Linked DNA regions of Homo sapiens: all the other regions are linked to region 1. The links come from fine-mapping of genetic effects on gene expression. A gene starts in region 1. Each other region holds a variant in brackets. All regions are shown on one strand. Distances are between the middles of the regions.

Region 1 (5,192 bases):
GCTTGGGGGTCCTGTGCTTCCTGTGGTTGCGAGTTGTGCACACAAACAGGCAGCACTTGGAAGCCAGAAAAGGCACAAGAAGGGAAACCATCTCAGTGCCAGCTCCCGATAAACAAGTCCCTGAACTGTTTTTACAGGACAAAGGAAGATGGCTCGCTCTGGCACAGACCTGGCAAGCCTTCACCACGCCCTACATCCCCTTCCTTCTTGCCAGGCTGGCACCAGGACTATGGACCCCCATTCAAACACCCCAATATGAACCTTCTTATCAGCCCAGACTGATGCCCTCAGCCTGGCATTCAAGGCCCCGTGGGAGCTGGCCCCACCCACTCTCACCGGGCCCTCTAGGCCCACAAGACATCTCAGCCCAGGCTGAGAATACCTGTTCCTTGGTTTCCACCTGGTTAATTCATGTTCACCTTGCTGTTCTACGTGCAAAAGGCCTTCCTGAGTTCCTGTCATCCCCAACCAACTGGAGTCCAGACACTTGGGCATCAACCTCCTCTCCCGAATTTCTTCCAGGAAACCCCTTCTCTCAGTGCTCAGCCCAACTAAAACTGCTCACTCCCCGGCACAGCCCAGGGGGTAACTTGTCAAGCACCTGCCCCACGCAGACACCTCCTCAGCGTTCTGCAGGCACTGGCTCACATGCGCTGCTCACAGCGAGGGCTGGCGCAAGGCAGGACCCCAGTTGGTGCATGGAGGCAGTGAGCCTGGGACTATGGGTCTGCAGCCTCGCAGGGCTGTCCATATGACCCTCCCAGAGCTGTGCTCCATGGGCCTTGGTTCCCCATCCCAAAAACTAAGGGTTGTGAGGGAATGTCTCCAGGCCCAGTGAGTAGACATAGCAGGTAGGAAGCATACACTGGACAAGGTGAGGCCTATAGTCAGAGCCTTCAGGGACCCCTGCCTGATGTGGTTTCCCAGCTCCAGGGTCCCCTTATGCAAGGAAGCTTCCCTGACAGGCAGAAAGGGACAAAGTCCCTTTGTGCAGGAAGGCTCCTTAATGGACAGCAAGGCCTCAGGCTCTGCCAACACCCAGTCCCTGGGACAGGGCTCCCTGGAGACCAACACAGCTCTGAGTTGTGTCCCACGCATTCTGATGAACTCACTAAGGGAATTACGGAATCCCAGCCTGGGCAGGGCACAATTTAAGACTTTGTTTCCCCATCTGTACACAGACGAGATATTCCAGGTGTCCCCATCTGATCATTTTCAAACAGGAATCACCCAACACAGGGTCCAATGCACAGTAAGTGCTCAGAAATGAGAGCCACAAATAAGAAGAGTTAGAAGGGAGGACAAAGGGGAGCAGGTGGCAGCTGGGGTCTCTTGTGGCCTAGGCTGGAAGTCTCTTCTGGCCTGGTGTCCTGGAAGTCATCAGTTTCCAGCCCATGAGATCCTATTTGTGGGCAGGACCTAGGCTGAGACTCAAGAGAGCGAGCACCGAGAGAGGACTAGGGACTTCTGGGGCTACCCTGAGCCCCTGAGCCAATTCTGCTCCATGAAACAGAACAGTAAGAATGAAGTGTAGCTTCTGGGAACCCCCATACTCCCTGGCCGGGCTGCCATGGGGTCCCTTACCAGCCCATCACCCTCATGGGGCTTCTCCAACAGGGGAAGGTCCACAGGGCAGAGTCACCCTGTTTGGGATCAGGAGGATGGTGGGCAGGTCCCCAGACCAGAGAGGCCCTGGGGAGGAAGGCTGGGCTGGGGCCACTAGCGTGGAGCACAACAACCTTGGGGGGTCCAGTCGCTGTCCCCGATTCTCTTAGAACTAAACAGGGGCAAGAGCGTCGTGGACCACCGAAGGAGTCTGGGAGACTCCAAGAGTCCCACAGGAATCACATGCCGCCGAGGAACGCATCGCCTGTCCCGCGACCTCGCTGGGGTGGTTGTAAGGATGGAGCGTTGTTTCCGTGGCCAGAATCACAGCAGGACCGCTGTGAATTCTCTCCGGTGTCATTTCTACCACCTCCTACTCTTTCAGACCAAATTCCCCACCACGGGACACACACACATTGGCAGTGGCTGAGCCCAGACCGCGGCTGTGCAGCCCCACCCTGGAGCTGCCTTGTAGCCCCCGCCCTCTTCGGGCCCCGCACCTGGCCACCACCCATCATGCCCGGCACCGCCTCGGCTGGCACGGCCCCGCCGGGTAGAAGCCCCGGGACACCCACCACTTCGCGGGGGTGCACTCGCGCACCACCGACAGCTGACGGGCCAAGGTCACTCGGCCCCCGCTGCCCAGGCGCGGCCTGCAGGCGACTCGCAAGGCAGCCGGACCCCCGGGCCGGGCCACCCATCCAGGGCGCCCGCATCCCTGCCGCCCAGCCGACCCCGTGCCCACCTGTCATGGCGACGGACACAGCGCCGCCCGCAGTCCCCAGCGGTCTGCCCCGCCGCGCGTCCGCCCCTCGGTCAGCCGCCCGGTCCACCAGCTCCAGCGAACGCCGCCCGCGGGCCGTGCTCGCCCGCCCCTTTTGGCTAGGCCAGCCCCCCGGCTTTGGCTGTGTAGCCTCGGGGACTCTAAACCCCGCCCTTTGACGAGCCCCGCCCCCTACCGTTAGGCCCCGCCCCTTCCGCGCCCGCTACGGCTCCCCCAGGGCTCTAAACTCCGCCCCTCTCACTCGAGTCCCGCCCCCTTGCCGTCCTGGGATAGGCCGCTGCGAGGATCCTGGAGCCTTGCCCCTCACTCGAGCCCCGCCCCCTCCGGCGTCGGCTTCCGCCTCTCCCGGAGTTCTGAGCCCCGCCCTGCACCTGAACCCCGCCCCCTCCGACGACGGCTTCCGAGCCTCAAGGAACCCCCCACCGGGCCCCGCCCCTTACTCGAGCCCCGCCCCCCTCCGTCGTCGGCCTCCGCGCCTCCAGGGGCCCTGAGCCCCGCCCCTTCCTGCTCTGCCATGCGACTGCGGGCGTGGGCGGGCGACTGCGGGCGTGGGCGGGCGCCACCGGACTCCCGCCCCTCCCAGCGTCAGTTAAGACGCCGCGAGGGGCCCAGAGTCCCTCCCCTCGCTGGGCCCCGGTCCCGCCGGCGTCTATAACGCCGTCGCAGCGGCCTTTAACCCCGCCTCTCACTCGAGCCCTGCCCGCGTCCAAGTCCCGCCCTCAAGGCGGCCTCAGCTACGACCGCCGCGCGCCTCCCTGGAGGCGCCCGCTCCTGCCCGGAGCCCTGCCCGTCTTGGGCCCGCCCTTCCGGGCCCTGCCGCGTTGAGTGGCGGAGTCGGGATCCAGGTGGCCCGCCGGCCGGCTCAGTCCACCTCCCCGCTCCCGGCCTCGCGCCCCACCCCTTGGATGAGAAAACTGAAACTGAGAGGGGACGTGACTGATCCAACGTCATACAGAAAGTCAGGCCCTGGGGAGTACAGGGCCAGGCCTGGGGCAAAAGGCCGGTGGGCGTCCAGTACGCCACAGGGACCAGCCAAAGGAGGCAGTGCCCAGTGATGCTTTCCCAAATCCAGGGGAGAAGGACTCAACGGTGTGACCTCGCTCGGCGGGGTGGGGGGGGGACACCTTCTTGGGGGACCCCAGTCCCCCACCTTCAAAAGAAGACACTAGCTTGACAGTGTGACCCGAACTAGAGAGGTCACTTAACCTGCCTGAGCCTCAGTTTCCTGGACTGTAAAATGAGTGACCTTGGGCCAACTCCACTTCCCTCCCGCTTTCCTTCCTGCTTTCCCTCTCGTAGGCCTGGCATTTCCAGCTCCGGAGCCCGCCACAAGAAGCTCCTAGCCCCACATGATGTGAATGCACTGGGCCCCAGCCAGGAAGTGGAGACCCGTGAAGGAAGGAATAGCAGCACTCTCCCAGCCAGCAGCAGCAGTTTCCCTTCCTCTTTCCTTCCCTGCCTGTGTGGGCCGTTCCCCCATAGCAGCTCTAATTTGAGATGCCAGAGCCTGACCCGGAATGGGGGCCCAACTCAGTGTCCCCTTCTCGGACAGCACAGTGGTCCCTGCAGTCCATGCGCCATCTGTCTCTTTGCCTCAGTTCTCCCCTGTGCCATGACCTCCCATCAGGGCCGGCATAGGGGGCATCAGGAGAATGGGTGCAGTTGTCACCTGGAAACCTCAAAATTCTTGGGGCCCAGTCATGGTCACTATACAGCAGCCACCCCTGTCCCCAAACACTGAAGGTGAGCCCCGTCCATGCTCCCCAGGAGGCCAGGCTGCCATCAGACCCAGCCTGCCCCAGGCCCATGTACAGGGCCGTCCCAGGGCAGGAGGGTAGTGGACCAGCCTGTGGGTCCCTGCAGGCCTCTCATCTGCTTGTGTGCCTGGGTGAGTCCAGGCTGGCTCTGGCCTCCAGGTGCTCCCCTGGAGGACCCAGAGGGGGCTTCCCCAGAGGGCCTCTTTTGCCCCAGTGGGATGCAGCCTGACCCCAATTCTTCTGCATCCATCACACTGTTATGACGTGTAGTACTTACTTCTCTGGGTTTATTTTGCACACACTCCTGCCCCTGAGTGATGTCAGAGCCATAAGGGTGGCGACGGAGTGGAAGGGGGACACAGTGGGGACTGCAGGGGCTCCAGGCACTGCCCACCTTCAGGGAACCTTGACCCCAGCCCCTTTTGGGAAAGGTAGCATCCCACCTTCACATCCACTTCTGCGCCCTCAGGACTGCCCCTGGCCATGTGATGAACAGGGAAACTGAGGTTTGGAGCATGAAGCCCCTTGCCCAAAATCTAGCAGCCAGATGTGGCCTCCCAAGTACAGGTCGCTGTTCCTCAGCCACCTGAGGGTTTGAAAAGGATTTACTTAAAGGAACCCAAGCCTGCATGCAGGGACTGAAAGCCCTGTGCCCTCTGGGATGTGCCCTCCAACCCTATGAGATGGAAGGCCGCGGCAGAAAGCAGGACAGCTGCTGGTGCAGCCAGGGGTGTACAGCCTGGATGCCCACCACGGGGGCTGCAAGCAGGCACGGGCACCCCATGGTCAAATGGCAGATCCTGGGCATTCCCCCTCCCCCAGGCATAGCACACGCATCCTCCCTCCGGGCTAGCTCTTGCCAGCTGTGGCTGCCTGGACCCCAAATGGAAAGTGAGTTCTTGGGAAGGTGGAGGGGCCCCTTAGAAGGAGTGAAGTGAGGTGTGACAGGAAGCCCCGCCCTTGGACACTGTCAAAGAAAAACCAGAGCTGGACTGTGGTTACAGATGTAGAAACAGATTTTTATTCGGGACTCTTGTGATAGGGGA
Region 2 (5,192 bases), 220 kb before region 1:
ACGGGAGAGCGGTCTGCATGCCAGGGGTGAGCAGAGCCACAGGTCTCCATGGAAATCATGGAGAAGGGAGGGAAGTGGGCAGGAGAGAGGGCAGCCTCTCCAGCTGGAGGAGCTGCACTTGTCTCCACAGGGTGGGCGGGCAGCCAGGGTTTCTATGCCCAACACACACCTTATCCTCACTCACAGCAGCCCACTGGCATGGGGGGCATGTCTGCTCACCTAACGTTTTCTGGCGGATTTCTCATGGCCCAGCGCAACAACTGACATTCCCTACTGAGCAAGCAGCTCCGCCAGTGTGCCCTGCCCCAGCGTCCCGCCGTCTCTCAGCCCCTGGATGAGCCCAGGGAACCGGCACTCTACTGAGGACAAAGCAGGGCTCACCTAGCAATGGAAGCTCTTCAATACTTAAGGTAGCTAATTCAATGTTTGTAAAAGGCATTTACAACAGAAAACCAAAGATTGAACTTCAGCTTCAGATTTGTAAACCATTCACATCTCTGCAACTTAAAACAGTAAATAAAGATTATCAATGCACAAGCCAATTGCAAATGAAACCTTTTCCGATAATTTTTTTTAACATATCTTTTCATCAGGGAACGGAAAAGCTGGCATTCAAGGCACTGTACTTCTGCAGGGTGACGACAAGGTTCTAACCATCAACTCAAGTATAGGAAGTGGGTGTGGAGACGGCGCGTGGACCACAGGAACCTAGGAGCGAACAGGGTCTGAAGCCGCAAAGGAAGCAGTCTTGCTGCCCACCCGCTGTCCCCCTCGCGGCTGAGTGCTGTGCCCACAGCAGGCGGTGGGGGGGACTCGGAGGCCAAACCACACCTGGTTTCTCCGGGCGGTTCCGAGGGCGCCATCTGGCAAGGGACAGGGCAGAAGGCTACGTGATCCGCAGCCGGGGGCCAGGCATGCTGACCACAGGTGGCTGCAAGAAGACTGGCAGCACGGGCACCTGGGGGGTGTTCCAGCTGCCCTGTGCCCCCAGCTGGCCCACCTGGCCTGCCCAGGGCCCCCAGGACACTGGAGCTGGGAGCAGGCCTCTGTACTGACCCAGAGGCAGCGCACAGGGTGGGGTTGGGAGGTTGGAGAGGGCAGTACCTGGTGTGGGCACGGACAGGGTCGGGGCGGCTCCGGGAATGACCGTGGTGGACAGAGGGCCGGGCGCTGGGGGCAGACGTGGCATCCCCACTCCTGCTCGAGGTGCGGTCATCTACAAAACACAGAGACGAGAAGAGGAAGGTACACGTGGCTGCAATCAGCTGGCCTCCCTTAGTGGCCCCCAGGGTGCCACAGTTTCTCCATCCTCAGGAGGCAGCAGTCCTGGAACCTGCTGTGACAGGCACCCTCTCAGGGCTGACACCAGAATGATGGTGTGGGGCCAGGAACCATCACCCTCCCTTGTTTGCTTCCCCAAGCTGCAGCCTGATAGCCTCTAGGCCACACACCTGGGTGTCCACCAGCCAAAATGGGACTTGGAGGAGGACTAGTGGGGCCTGGACCCTGAGGGCGCATGAGTGACCCCACATGCCTCTACTCAGCCACCACAAAGCCCTCCTGCTTGGCTGGTCAGTGCCCTCACAGGAGCATGAACCACCCAGGAGCTGGCAGGAGCAGAGCCCCAGGACCTGGGCAAAGCAAGTGTGCAGGGAGGTGATGGCAAGGCAGCCCTTCCACTGTCCCAGCCCGGGGAGAAGCTGTATGCGGGGTGTGCCCCAGGAAGGCAAGGCTGCTGGCCACGGGGAGTCACTCCTCTCCACTCCAGGGAGGGCCCCACTGGGCACTCTTCACAGGTGCATGGAGGGCACTCGGTGACTTCCACAACCCTTCCTGGAAATCAAGCTCGGCAGTCAGGGGCTGGAGGGGCCTCCTTATCTGGAAGGTCCTCTATGGAACCGACAGCTGAGCCCCTGCCCACGACAAAATGCCCAATACCTCCCCAAGGTGCCTCCATGCTTCCAGTCGACACCACGGGGATCTCCAGGCGGGGAGGAAAAGGAGTCAACCGCACAGACTGGACAGAGAGAAGGAGAACTGGCCTCATGCAGATGACAAGACTGTGTATGCAGAAAACCCACAAGAATGGACAAACCAATTTCTAGAACTAATAGCAAATTTAGCACAATTGCAGGATATGGGGTACGAAAGTCAACCATAGTTTTATATTCTAGCAACAGGAAGCTGGAAAAGGAGATTTAAAGAAAAATAACATTTATAATAGCATTCCAAAACATCAGCTACCTAGGGATAAATTTAATGAAAGAGGTATAACATCTTTACACTGCAGAGAAACAAAAAAGATGCCAGTAAACGGACACTACATTCACAGGAACGCTCATGTTGTTCATATGTCAAACCTCACCCAGATAATCAACAGACTGAATCCACTCCCAGCCGAAATCCCAGTGGGCTAGCCTGCAGAAAGTGACAGGCTGTTCCTAAAACATATGGAAATATTAACGACCTGAAAAAAATCAAGAACTTCTTGAAGAAGATCAACACTGAAAGTCTTTCCTGAGCAAAGATTAAACTTCCTAGAAAACTTCAGTCATGAAGAGAGTGTGGTGTTGCCACAATGATAAGGGAATTGCTAAAGCAAACAAAATAGCAAATTCAGAAATGGACCTACACACAGACGACCACTTGACGAATGTCTGCTCAATTCAGTGCAATTCAATATGGAGAGGAAGGGGCTGGAACGATCAGATATGCAGAGAGGAAAAAAACAGATTTACCTCTGCATCAAAATATACTCAAGAGTTCATTTGAGATGGCTCATGGGATCTAAAGCAATAGCTAAAGCTGCAAAGCTTTTAGGAAAAAAAAAATTAAAATTTTTACCATTTCATGTTCACCATTAAGAAAGTGAAAACACAAACCACAGATTGGTAGACTATATCCATTATATA[C/T]ACACACACACACACACACACACACACACACACACACACAAGGGGTCTTCAAAAAGTTCATGGAAAAGACATACCATGAAAAAACTATGCATGACTTTCAAAAAAAATCTTTGTACCCAAATAAACTTGTACTAACTTATTGCAGCATGTCTGAAGAGGAGGTAGTCTGAGGCACTAAGAAGGAGAAGACTTCAGTTTGAAAAGAGCCCCTATCACAATAACGTGAATTCTGCCAAGCAAGAACCAACATCACATGTATGGTGAAGCTTGGGTGGAAGAATGGTGAGATCACTGATGCTTTCTGAAAAGTTTACAGGGTCCATGTCCCCAAAGAAAATAGCAGTTTACAAATGGTTGACTTGTTTTAAGAAGGGATGAGACCATGCTGAAGACGGAGCCCACAGCGGCAGGCCATCCGCATCACTTTGTGAGGAAAACACTCATCTGGTCTGAGCCGTAAGTGCAGAGGACGGGTGGTTAACAGCAGAAATAGTGGCCAACACCACAGACAGCTCAGTAGGTTGAGCTTACACAATTCTGACAGAAAAATGAAAGTTGAGCAGACTTTCCACTCAATGGGTGCCAAACCCATTGCGCCCACATCAGGCGCAGAGAAGAGCAGAGCTGTCAGTGGTAACTTTGAACAAGTGGGATGGAGATCCTGAAGCTCTCTTTGAACTATAGCGACATGAAACGTGGCTTTCCTGGTATGGTCCTGAAGACCAAGTGCAGTCAAGGCAATGGTGCTGAGGGCTGGAAGTGGTCCCATCAGAGCAAAAGTGGGCCAGTCAAGAGCACATTGTGGCAACAGCTTTTGGGATGCTTAAGGCATTCTGCTTGCTGACTTTCTGGAGGGGTAACAAGGAATGTAACATCTGCTTAGTATGAGAATGTTTAGGGAATGTTAGCCAAAGCTTCAGCAAAACCCCCCCCGGGAAAGCCTCCCCAGAGAGTCCATCTCCATCACGACAATGCTCCTGCTCGTTCCTCTCACCAAAGAAGGGTGATTTTGCAAGAGTTTCCATGGGAAATCATCAGGCATCTACCCTACAGTCCTGATTTGGCTCCCTCTGACTTCTTTTTGCTTCCTAATTTTGAAACATCTGTAAAGGGCACCCATTTTTTGTCAATTAATAATGTAAAAAAGACTCCATGGCCATGGTTAAATTCCCAGGACCATTAGGTCTTTAGGGAGGGACTAAATGGCTGGCATCATTGCTTATAAATGGCTGGCATCATTGCTTATAAATGGCTGGCATCATTGCTTATAAGTGTCTTGAACTTGATGGTGCTTGTGTTAAGAAAAAAGCGTGTATTTCTTCTTTAGTAGCTGTAACTATAGGTATGTGCCACCATGCCCAGCTGTTTTTTTTTTTTCAGACAGGGTCTTGCTCTGTCGCCAGGCTGGAGTGCAGTGGCACTATCTCGGCTCACTGCAGCCTTGACCTCCTGGGCTCAAGCGATCCTCTCACCTCAGCCTCCTTAGTAGCTGTAACTATAGGTATGCACCACCATGCCCAGCTGTTTTTTTATTTTTATTTGAGACGGACTTTTGCTCTTGTCGCCCAGGCTGGAGTGCAATGGCACAATCTCGGCTCACTGCAACCTCTGCCTCCCAGGTTCAAGCGATTCTCCTGCCTCAGCCTCCTGAGTAGCTGGGATTACAGAAGCCCACCACCATGCTGGGCTAATTTTTTTTTTTTTTTTGTACTTTTAGTAGAGACAGGGTTTCACCATGTTGGCCAGGCTAGTCTTGAACTCCTGACCTCAGGTGATCCACCCGCCTCAGCCTCCCAAAGTGCTGGGATTACAAGCGTGAGCCACTGCACCCAGCAGCCCAGCTAATTTTTATATTTTTTGTAGAGATGAGGTTTTGCCATATTGCAAAGGCTGGTCTTGAACTCCTGGACTCAATCAATCCACCTGCCTCAGCCTCCCTAAGTGCTGGGATTACAGGTGTGAGCTACCATGGCCAGCCATATATTTCTTACTTTTATCTTTTAATTCCATTTTTCTGTGAACTTTTGGAAGCCCCCTTGTATATGACAAAAGATATATGATGAACTCCCACAAATCAATAATAAAAAGTTAAACAAATCAACTTTTAAATGGTCACTATCCTTGACCAGGCACTTTTTAAAAGACGGCTGATAAGAATATGAAAATATAAGAATATGAAAATTGTTTAATTTGCTCTAAGGCAAATTAAACAATAATGAGAAACCTATTACTAGACCTCAAATTCTTTTTGCAAATACAATTTCAACTACAATGTCCTAC
Region 3 (5,000 bases), 680 kb after region 1:
GAATATGTTCATTTGAAGAAATTATCATAGTGAAATAAATGCCTAGGAATAATCAACATTAGTAGAGAGAAGCATTTGCTAGCAAGCCTTAACCTATAACTTATTAACTTATTCATTCAACACACCTTTGAGCACTTATAACACTGCATTGTATTAGATTCTGTTAAAAGATATTAGGAAATGAGATGATCAACAATGAATTATACAATATTGCTGTGAGTTATCCTATAGAGAACAAGGCATACATTGTAGAGTATGAAAAGCAGAAGTAACAAAAATATGCTTAGCAAATGACTCAGAAGAGATTAGTTGGGGAATGAAAAATTTGGATAAAATAAGAGATTGTTGTAACAGGGGAAATTATCCTGGGGAAAGAGCAAGAGGCATAGAAAATAATGAGCATATAGATGAAAACAGGATGGATTTCAAAACAGAAAACTGCACTTAATCAAAGGGAGTGGGACAAGATTGTACTACATGGTTAGGAACGTGGAGGGAGGAGGACAAGGATGTTTAAGATAAGTTCAGGTTTAGAAGAGAAATTGTTCCTCAAGGAAAGACTTTCTTCTTAGGTGCTCACAAAGGCGGAAAGCAGACAATATTAAAAACCTCTTTATTTTCAGAGACGCCCCAGTCATGTCTTGATTCAAGGCCTTCTTCTTTTTTCCCAACAATTTTTCATAGTTGTTGAACAACAGACTCTAATTCTCAAATGTAAGGTTGATAACTGATGATTAGCTAATGTTCTCAACAAAGGGATAAAATTCAAGCTGAGTTTTCAGCCAGGCAGGTGGCTCACACCTGTAATCTCAGCACTTTGGGAGGCTGAGGTGGGCGGATCACCTGAGGTCAGGAGTTCGAGACCAGGCTGGCCAACATGGCAAAATCCCGTCTTAACTAAAAATACAAAAAAATGTAGCCAGTCGTGGTGGTGCACGCCTGTAATCCCAGCTACTCAGGAGGCTGAGGCACAAGAATCACTTGAGCCTGGGAGGCGGAGGTTGCAGTGAGCCGAGATTGTGCCACTGCACTCCAGCCTGGGTGACAGCACGAGACTCTTGTCTCCAAAAAAAAAAAAGTTAATATGTTATACTATAATAAGTACAATAAAATATTATAAAATTATACATAAAATATCATCAATGAGTATAAAATGTATAGAATATTCTATATCCATTCCTATTAATCTCCCAAAGTCTGGGTCAAATGATGTCTACAAAAGACTTTCCTGTCTCCGTAAGGCTGAGGTAAGCCACTGGCCCCACAGCATTGCCTATCTCTGCTATAAAGGATATTACCCTCTGCCTTAGATTAGGGTTCACTTTGTTGTATCTCTCTCCTCCACTAAGCTGTTTGCTCTTTACAGAAGGGACTATGGCTTCACGTCTTCTTCATTTCTGTATTCTCCACCAACTTAGCATAGTGCCTCATCACTAGAAATAATTCAGGACAACGGTAAACTGATGTAACCCAATCAAACTAACTACTAATATTTGTAAAGTGCTTCACTAAGCATGTTTACATACAGTAAAGTAGTAGAGTACACTAGGTGAATAAGCATTTCCAAGCAGACCCACTGGGAGCTTCCAGCCCAGCAAGGAGAGCCTGCTCTGAACACTGCCCTTTGGTATGATACCATAACTCCTTAAATCTACCTCCTTCCAAGATTCTCTACTTTTTCACCCACGAACACTGACTGTAGTGTGAAATCACAGCCCAAATATGTTAATTCATTAAATTAGGCATTCATTCCCAGAGTGCAAATTCCTCAGGTCAGAATTTAGGCCCTCCAAGGCCGGGGGTGGTGGCTCATGCCTGTAATCCCAGCACTTTGGGAGGCTGAGGGGGGCAGACTGGTTGAGCCCAGAAGTTCATGACCAGCCTGAGCAACATGGCAAAACCCTGTCTTTACAAAAAATTAAAAAATTAGCCAGGTGTGGTGGCACGCATCTGTAATCCCAGCTACTCAGGAGGCTGAAGTAAGAGAGTCACTTGAGCCCAGGAGATGGAGGGTGAGCCAAGAGTGCACCACTGCGCTCCAGCCTGGGTGACAGAGTGAGACTGTCTCAGAAAAAAAAAGTTAGGCTAATCCCTTCAGATCTGGATTTAATAGTCTTATTTTGCTCCTTCAAGAGTTAACCAACCACATTTCCCAAACACATCACCATCTGTTGCTTCTATGTTTTTGCTCATCTCTTCTAGCCAGAGATCTTCTTCCTCACTTCCCTCTATGAGAACCTCAACACTCCTTCAAAGTCTAGGTCAAATGCCACATCTTCCACGAATCTCACAGAAAAGAAAGAAAAA[T/CGGAT]GGATGTAATATAGAGTTGCACAAAGAAACATCATGAATTTCAAAAGCACATATTGTTAAAAAAAAAACAAAAACAAAACCCAAACCATTGCTATTTTGGCATTTTCTTGTAGGTAGGGATACATATAAGAAAATAGAAATAAATGATATCTTGATCCTATTTTCTTGACTTAAAAAAAAGAAGCAAGGTCATCACCCAAAAACAATAATGGGGAATAAGGTATTAGAGGCTTCAGAGAGGAAAGTTACAAAACAGTAGCGTAGAAGAGAGGGAAGGAGGATGGTCTAAGGAAATGCAGCAGGACAGCACTTGAGGTTAGTGGTCTTGAATCGAGAGTGAGACCAGTCACCATGCTCCTGTTTTTCTTTAGTTACATTCAGCTGTGACAGTCAGGCTGTGAGTAGGTAGAGAATTGGAGTAACCAGAGTTGGAGTTTGGCAGATTGAAGGAGCCAGAAAGTTTAGGGCATGTGCAAAAGAGCAACGATAGTGATCAACTATGGGGTCTAAGTTGGTAAGAAGGAACTGACAATGTTGGGAGGTATGGATGAGGGACAGTGAAAAACAGTAGAATCAATATAGCTGAGGTTCCACGGAAATTGGAGAATTATTGCAGCTGGAGTTACTACATAGAGATAGTGGTCTGAGTGCGGAATACTCAAAATGAAGAGTATGAAGGGTTCCAGTAATAGAAAAGACAAAACCCAGGATGCGGGTGCATGGGAGCAAATGGTGAGGAAGAATGAAGGAAAGTATCACTGCAGGAAGAGAGCTCAAGGGTCTCTGACTCTACCTGAATAACTACTTCAAATTCCAAATACACACAATAGTTACATTTATAATTTCTGACAAGAAAAGAAGAAGAAATTGAGATGTTTCTTAACCTTTCTCAAATGGGGTTCTGTCAAAGAAAATAACTTAAGTAACTATTCTCTCAATTATACCAATGATGAAAAATAGCTAGAACCATTCTACATGAACAGGAGATAAGTCATTTCATTATATGCAATGATTTGTTTGGAAACTCATTCTCTCATGAAACCCTGGGTGGGAAAAGTAGAAAGGTCTCAGAATAAAAGAGGTAGGATTTTTTAAAACCTTTTTCCTAAATGATACATTCATTTCATCTGGATAGCAGTTTTCAACGTGCAAAGTACTTGTACATGCATAGCTCATACAATGCTAACAACGACCAGGCGGATAAGCAGGCAAGATATGACACAAGGAGGCTGGATGCAGTGGCTCACGCCCGTAATCCCAGCACTTTGGGAGCCCAAGGTGGGTGGATCATGAGGTCAGGAGTTCGAGAGCAGCCTGGTCAACATGGTGAAACTCCATCTCTACTAAAAATACAAAAATTAGCCGGGTGTGGTGGAGTGCACCTGTAATCCCAGCTACTGGGGAGGCTGAGGCAGGAGAATTGCTTAAACCCAGGAGGTGGTGGCTGCAGTGAGCCGAGATCGCACCACTGCACTCCAGTCTGGGCAACAGAGCAAGACTCCATCTCAAAAAAAAAAAAAAAAAAAGACACAAGGCAACATACAAGATAAGCAGCCAAGGTATAATTCAGCTATAATTGCAATTCTTATTTTATTGATGAGGCAAGAGGCAGATATGTTAAGTGACAGAAATGAAATATAGGTTTCAGGCTTCTCATCTGGGACATAATTGACCCTTCCCTAGAACTTCAAGTTTCAGCACTGAGTGTTCATTGTGAAGTGTGCCCTTTTGCAATTCTTTTCCACACAATATCCTCCTCCTGCATTCTACTGCACGTGTATTTGATTCTCCACAAGACTTTAAACACCTGGGAGACAAGGACAGTGTGTTTTTAATAATATTTTTGTATCTAAAACTTAAATATATTAATGGAAAAAAGGAAGCTAGGAAGAAAAATGTAAAGACACTTGAACTTTGTAGAATGTAAACACTGTATGTCTTTAGGATTTAAAGTAGTTATTCAAGCAGAGTCGGAGACTAAATAATTGGATTCTGGAAACTGTTTCATGAGGAAAATTTGATGGTGCTGTTAGTTTTGGACAGAAAATATTAAAAGGAAACATGAATACTATTTCTAAATATCTGAAGTTATCACACAAAAGGGAGCATTTCACGTTCTTCTGAAGGGCAGAAAAAGGTATCAGCAAATAGAAGTTGTAGAATCTCCCAGGCAAAAGCTCTCTAACTAAAATAAAGGTCTTTCCTCCCCCAGGCAGTGACCATCATTAAAGGATCAGGTAATTCCAAAGAACACACAGCATTTACAGTGGAGGGATCAGACTGTAGTTGACTGATGTCATGCTATTATCATAGATCTATACCCTAGTAAGCAAGAGAAACTGGGACTCTTAAAAGATGGTTACTTAGTAGAAAGTCTAGTATACCAGACTTTTGACTCAAGTTCAGTGTAATATGTGACTTAAAAAAAAAAAAAATCTCGGCCAGGCGCAGTGGCTCACGCCTGTAATCCCAGCACTTTGAGAGGCTGAGGTGGGTGGATCACCTGAGGTCAGGAGTTAGAGACCAGCCTGGCCAAGATGGAGAAACCCCGTCTCTACTAACAATACAAAAATTAGCCAAGCGTGGTGGCACGCGCCTGTAGTCCCAGATACTTGGGAGGCTGAGGCAGGAGAATCACTTGAACCGGGGAGGTGGAGGCTGCAGTGAGCCAAGCCTGCACCACTACACTCCAC
Region 4 (5,170 bases), 61 kb after region 1:
TGCCTCTGGAGGGGGGTGGCCTTGGGGAGAAAGGGGAGGGAGGATGGTAAAGAGGCCAAAAGCCAGCATGCGACCAGCCAGCATGTGTCCAGGCTCTGCCACTCCATGGACGGGCAGTGGAGTGTGCCCAGGCCCTGGGCTGTGGGATGGGAGGGCTGGAGCTGGGGGCGGGGCAGTGTGTGGCGAGAGGCCAGGCCCAGGCAGCCAGCTCCCCAGCAGCATCCTTGCTGGGGTGTCCCGCAGGAGGGGTCTCTGGGAACAGACCCTAGGAAGGCCAGCTCTGTAAGGGCACAGCACGCAGGCTCTGCATGCTGGAGGCCTCTCACTGCCCCTGTCTGAGCCTCAGCTTCCTCTTTTGGAAAAAGTGGGAACAGACTACAGCCACCAGTATGACAGCAAACAAGCTCCCATCAGCACTGGCCTCGCAGCAGGCGGCAGAGTCTGGGGGCACGCCCTGCCCCCAGGCCTGCGGTGACAGACCTTGTCTCTGCCTCCCAGCGGACTAGCCAGGTTGGTGGGTGCAAGAGAGAGGGCTCGAGGCTAGGGGACTCTCCATGGCGACCCCACAGCACAGTCTTTGGCCCCAGCAGACACCTGCCCTGCTGGATTCACCATGGCCGGCAGGCCAATTCCAGGTGCCTGCTCGGTTCCGGAGCTGTGGGGCTCTGGGGGTGGCCTCTCTATGACTCAGTTTCCTCAGCTGTCAAGTGGGGATTTCCTGGGGTTGTGGTGAGATGGCAGAAATAGAACTACTGAAGCAGGCAGAGGACGGAGTCCTGACCCTTCAAAGAAGGGCCTCATTAGGGCTGCAGCCGATGCTTAGTAGACGTGTGTGAGGGAGCGGCTCCGGCACTGCTCTGTAGGGGATGAATGTGAGTCAGAGCTCAGCTCTGCAGGGGAGAAGGCAGGGCCAACGGGCTGGGGTCCCCTCGAGGCCTCCTCCACCCCGTCCCTGCTCCAGCCTGAGCTGGGTGAGGGGCTTTGCTGCTTCCTTGGGCAGCAGCTGGAGCCGATTGAGACGCTGCTGTGCAGCTGAAAGGGTCTGATTCCATCTCCCCCTGGTGGGCACTGTCCAATGTGGAAGTATGCAGGTTGTTTAGCATCCCTGAGCCTCAGTTTCCTTAGTGTGAAGTGGGACCAGAACATCCAGCATAGCATGGGAAGCTGTGGCAGAGGCCCAGGTAGCCAGCAGGGGCTCCGTGTGCAGTGGCTGCAGCAGCATCCCAAGCGTGGCCCAGCTAGAGCTCGTGGGAGCTCACCTGTGCCCTCACCTGTGCCCCCATCTCAGCTGTCTCCGCCTCACCTGTGTTCTCATCTCACCTGTCCCCCCCATCACCTGTGACCAGTCTCCCATTTCTGGCTCTTCCTCCTGCCCTCTCAGTCCCCCAGGTAGGTGCCCTGCTTGTCTTCCCAGGTGTCTCCACATGGTGCTATATGGATATTAGAGGGGCGGGGGTCCTGACCAGTGAGCACCCCCAATCACTGGTCCCTAAATTCCCCCACTCTCTCCCAGAGGCCCTCAGGGCTCTGATGCAAACAGCACCCCCACCCCAAGTAGCCTTTGCAAGGTCCCCACTGGCACCATCTTGAGTGCCCTGCACCCCACCCTCCCCATCTCTGAGCCTGGCCATCTTCACCTGCCACCTGCCCACCCCCTGGCAGGACAACAGATGCAGAACTGCTTTCCAGGTGGTGTGTGGCCGATGTGATTCCATCACCCTTGTCCCTCAACCCTTTATCAGCCAGCCCACCTTGTGGGGGGACGCTGCTGAGGGGCTGGGGAGAGATCACCGAGGCTGCGCCCACTGCTGGTGGCCAGTGTTTATTTATGCAGATAAGCACTGTGTGCCACTAGCATCAGGAACAGCCACAAATCTCATGCGCCTGCCACTCAGTGGCTGGGGTAAGTCCTAGCAGAGCTTCTGAGCGTGGTTATTTAGGAACCATGAGTCCAGCTAGGATGGGGCAGGCCCACCTCCTGGGGGCTGCAGGCAGAACCTCAGGAGAGGACAGAGAAAGGAGGTGGGAAGCAAGTCACGATTCAGCTCACACGGTGTAGACAGGCTGGGCAGAGGCGGGGTGGACCACGCTGCAGACCAGCAGGATGTGGCTGTCCCTGGCAGTGCCCATGCTGCCTCTTTCTGCCTTCCGGGCCAGCATCACCACACGGCCCATATGGATGATGGTTACTTTGGCAGTCGGCCCCTGCTCTGGGCCACACTGCTGGGGCTGGAGGCCAGGCTCTTAGCCAAAACTTGCTGGGTGACCCTTGGCCAGTGGTTGCCCCTCTCTGGGCCTCAGTTTCCTTCCCCCCAAAGCCAAGTGTCCTGAGCTCTGGGCTGTTGGCCCACCCTCAGCAGTCCAGGGCGCTCTTCATGGGGCCTCCAACACCACCTCCCAGGACAGCACAGGTCCAATGTGGTGGTGTGCAGGGCAGTGGGAGACTCAGCTCACGGAGCAGCTGCGCCCATAGGGACCTGAAGCTGCAGGGCCCCCGGGCTGTCCTGGGCCGTGTCCCCATGGGCAGCAGTGCTTAGGGTTTCCAGCCACTGCTGCTGCAGCTCTGCGGAGGAGGCGCTCAGGTACCAGGACTGCTTGGCCCACTGCAGCTTCCACACATGCCCCGAGTCCAGCCTCTCCTCAGGGTCCGGCACACTCAGTTTGCAGCTGGGGAGAGGGATGGTGCGGGGCAGCCGGCCGTCCTGCAGCAGAGGAGCAGATGGTCAGCGGGGCCACAGCTTCCCGGCCTCGGGCTCACCTCAGTGATGGGGGCCTCTCCCAGGAGGCCACTCCCAGACCCTTGCAACGCAAGGCAGGTGCTGAGCCCGAGGGGTCTGGTGGCTGTGCCTGCACTGCCTTTTGTCAACAGGAGGACGGTCGGTGGGGGCATCCACTGGTTCTTCCCGAGGGAGATATAGGGAGGGGGATGCCTTGCCCACCTCACCAGACCCCCAGACTCCATGGCCTTCTTTGGGCTGTCTGGCCCCTGGGGAGGCGAGGCAGGACAGGCCAGCCCCTGTGACAGAGTAGCAACTGGGGCTCCAAGGGGCCGGGCCAGGGCTGTGTGGGTTCCTGAGTCTCCCCTGACAGGTTCTGTGGCTCCTGGCCACCCTTTGTGCCCCCTTGGCCCACCCCTCCTTGCACCCTGGCTGGCTCTGGGGTCCACCCAGGTGCCAGTAGGTTCTGTCTCCTGTGACTGGCAAGCAGAGGGAATCCTGCGCTGC[C/T]GGGGAAACTGAGGCCCCAGGTAACACTGCTCAAGCAGGTGGACCCCAGCTGGTGGCACAGGCCTGCTGTGGGTGCCTCAGGCCTGAGGCTCTGGGCTGCTGGCCTGAGGGCCTGGTGGGGTGGGGACACGTACCTGGCTGCCTCCCTGCAGGTGCAGCACCTGGGGATCTGACATGGGGATGGCGGCCCACACCTCGCTCCAGGTCTCACCGCTCTCTGACAGCCGCAGGGGGCCGCAGAGCAGGCTGGGCTGGGGGTCTGCAGTGGGTGTCTTCTGGGGACACAAAGACACAGGTTAGGGGCAGTCTCCCCTGCAGTGGTCACCCCTGTTCTGAGGAGGCTGGGGTAGGGCCAGGGCCACTGCTTGGGGGGAGCTGGCTGTGGAGACATGGCCAAGATCTGCACAGAGACTGGGACCAGCCTCACCCGGCTTGCAAGGGTCACTAGAAGCCTGCAGGACATAGGCATGTGTGGTATCAGATGGGGTTTGCAGGCTGGGCCCTCCAAGGGGAGGGCATCCATATGCTGGGTCAGGACACATCAAAATCATAGGAAAACCCAACAGCAAGTACCTGAGGGTGGGTCACGGGACAGGGACTTCAAGCGTGTCAGTTCTACACACACCATATACATGCACGTGCGTGCACACACAGCACACACACACACACCACACACACAGGCCCTCCCTCTGTCATGTCACTGTTGGAGCTACTGTCCACCATTTGGACGTGGCTTAGACACCCCCTGCCAGAGCTGGACCCCTCAGACCTGGGCCCCCCTTCGAGGCCAGAGTCCACCTTACAGGGCCCTGGAGGCCCGTGCCCCAAGGACCTGGGGCTCTCAGAACACACCTCGGTATTTAAATTGCAGGCATGAGGGAGCTCGGTAGGCAGTGCAAGGTCCTTCTTCACCATCAAGACCATTCAACACTCAGTCCTAATAGACTTACATCCTTGACTTCTTAGACCAAGGACCTAGGTCAGGGCTCCAACCACAGCTGTAAGTCAGAGCAGCTGGGACTCTGAAAACACACTGACCCCCCGATCACCTCACTGAGCCTCTAGGAGGGAGATCAACACTAGAAGCTTCCCAGGAGACTCCAACGTGCAGCTGGCACTGCAAACCGCAGGCTGTGTCGAGTGGAGAGAAAGGGCGATGTGCTTTTCTGGAAACTCACGTTTTCTTTTTCAGCTGTCCTGCAACCCCCCAGAATAGACTGTATTCTTGAGGAAGGAAGTCAGGGAAAGCAGCAGCTACTCTCAGAAAGAGGAGTGGAGGAGGAAAAGAGGAAGAGAAAGAGAGGAGGAGAAGGGGAGGGGGAGGAGGAGGGAGAGAAAGGAGGAGGAGAAGGAGAGGGAAGAGTAGAAAAAGGGTACGGGGAGGAGAAGGAGCAGGAGGAGGAGGGAGAGGAGAAGGAGAAAGACAGCGAGGCGGAGGGAGAGGAAGGAGGGAGAGGAAGAGGAGAAGGGGACGGGGAGGAGGAGGAGAAGGGGACGGGGAGGAGGAGGAGAAGGGGACGGGGAGGAGGAGGAGGGGGTGCCTGCCTCCAGGGCCCTGCTCACCCTCTGACAGCTGGAGGTGAGGCAGGCAGAGAGAAGGGCAGTATCTCCCCTCAGGTGGGCCTCAAGGCCTGGACTTGAGGGCAGCTTCAATCCATGCCCTCCAACCAGGTGACCAGGAGTGACACTTGTTCCCATCTAACTCCTGGATGCAAATGGTTCCCAAGCCTTGGCCCTGGCTGGTCCCGAGAAGCCAGCGTGCACACACGGGATCTTCCGAGTGTGTTCCCAGCCTGGGGGCCCCACTGAGACACACCCACATCTATCCTGGTCCCAGGGACACTCCGAAAGCAGAGGCAGCTGGAGCTGCTGGGGCACAGGAGCAGGTGTCTGGAGGCTCTGCCGCGCCACCAGGAGGGGAGCAGGAGCTGGGAGCACCCACCTCT

The links. PIP is the estimated chance that this variant, and not a neighbour inherited with it, causes the effect. A credible set is the group of variants that fine-mapping cannot tell apart.
Region 2: its variant is the best candidate, but not a certain one, in a credible set for the expression of CARD19 in whole blood (INTERVAL, PIP 0.73).
Region 3: its variant is the best candidate, but not a certain one, in a credible set for the expression of CARD19 in hippocampus (GTEx, PIP 0.57).
Region 4: its variant is the best candidate, but not a certain one, in a credible set for the expression of CARD19 in whole blood (TOPMed, PIP 0.67).

Annotation. Positions count from the first base shown.
Region 1 is chr9:93,093,511-93,098,702 of GRCh38, reverse strand. CARD19 (caspase recruitment domain family member 19) reads right to left here and starts at 2,486. Exons shown (of 6, transcript NM_032310.5): 1 at 2,351-2,486. The coding sequence starts at 2,357. LOC101927993 (a long non-coding RNA gene) reads left to right here and starts at 3,193. Exons shown (of 4, transcript NR_188444.1): 1 at 3,193-3,335; 2 at 3,689-4,132. RefSeq lists enhancers at 186-255, 3,449-3,498 and silencers at 2,129-2,238, 2,259-3,008, 3,029-3,338.
Region 2 is chr9:93,313,544-93,318,735 of GRCh38, reverse strand. It overlaps WNK2 (WNK lysine deficient protein kinase 2), which reads right to left. Exons shown (of 30, transcript NM_006648.4): 29 at 1,105-1,216. Among named protein-coding and RNA genes, the nearest start is that of WNK2, 130 kb to the right of the region's middle. The variant C/T (reference allele first, on the strand shown) is at 2,913.
Region 3 is chr9:92,418,133-92,423,132 of GRCh38, reverse strand. All of the region lies in intron 5 of CENPP (centromere protein P), which reads right to left. All of the region lies in intron 1 of OMD (osteomodulin), which reads left to right. Among named protein-coding and RNA genes, the nearest start is that of OMD, 3.8 kb to the left of the region's middle. The variant T/CGGAT (reference allele first, on the strand shown) is at 2,308.
Region 4 is chr9:93,032,870-93,038,039 of GRCh38, reverse strand. FGD3 (FYVE, RhoGEF and PH domain containing 3) reads right to left here. Exons shown (of 18, transcript NM_001083536.2): 16 at 5,167-5,170; 17 at 3,359-3,499; 18 at 1,807-2,702. The coding sequence ends at 2,451. Among named protein-coding and RNA genes, the nearest start is that of SUSD3, 23 kb to the left of the region's middle. RefSeq lists enhancers at 560-1,453, 2,280-3,073. The variant C/T (reference allele first, on the strand shown) is at 3,225.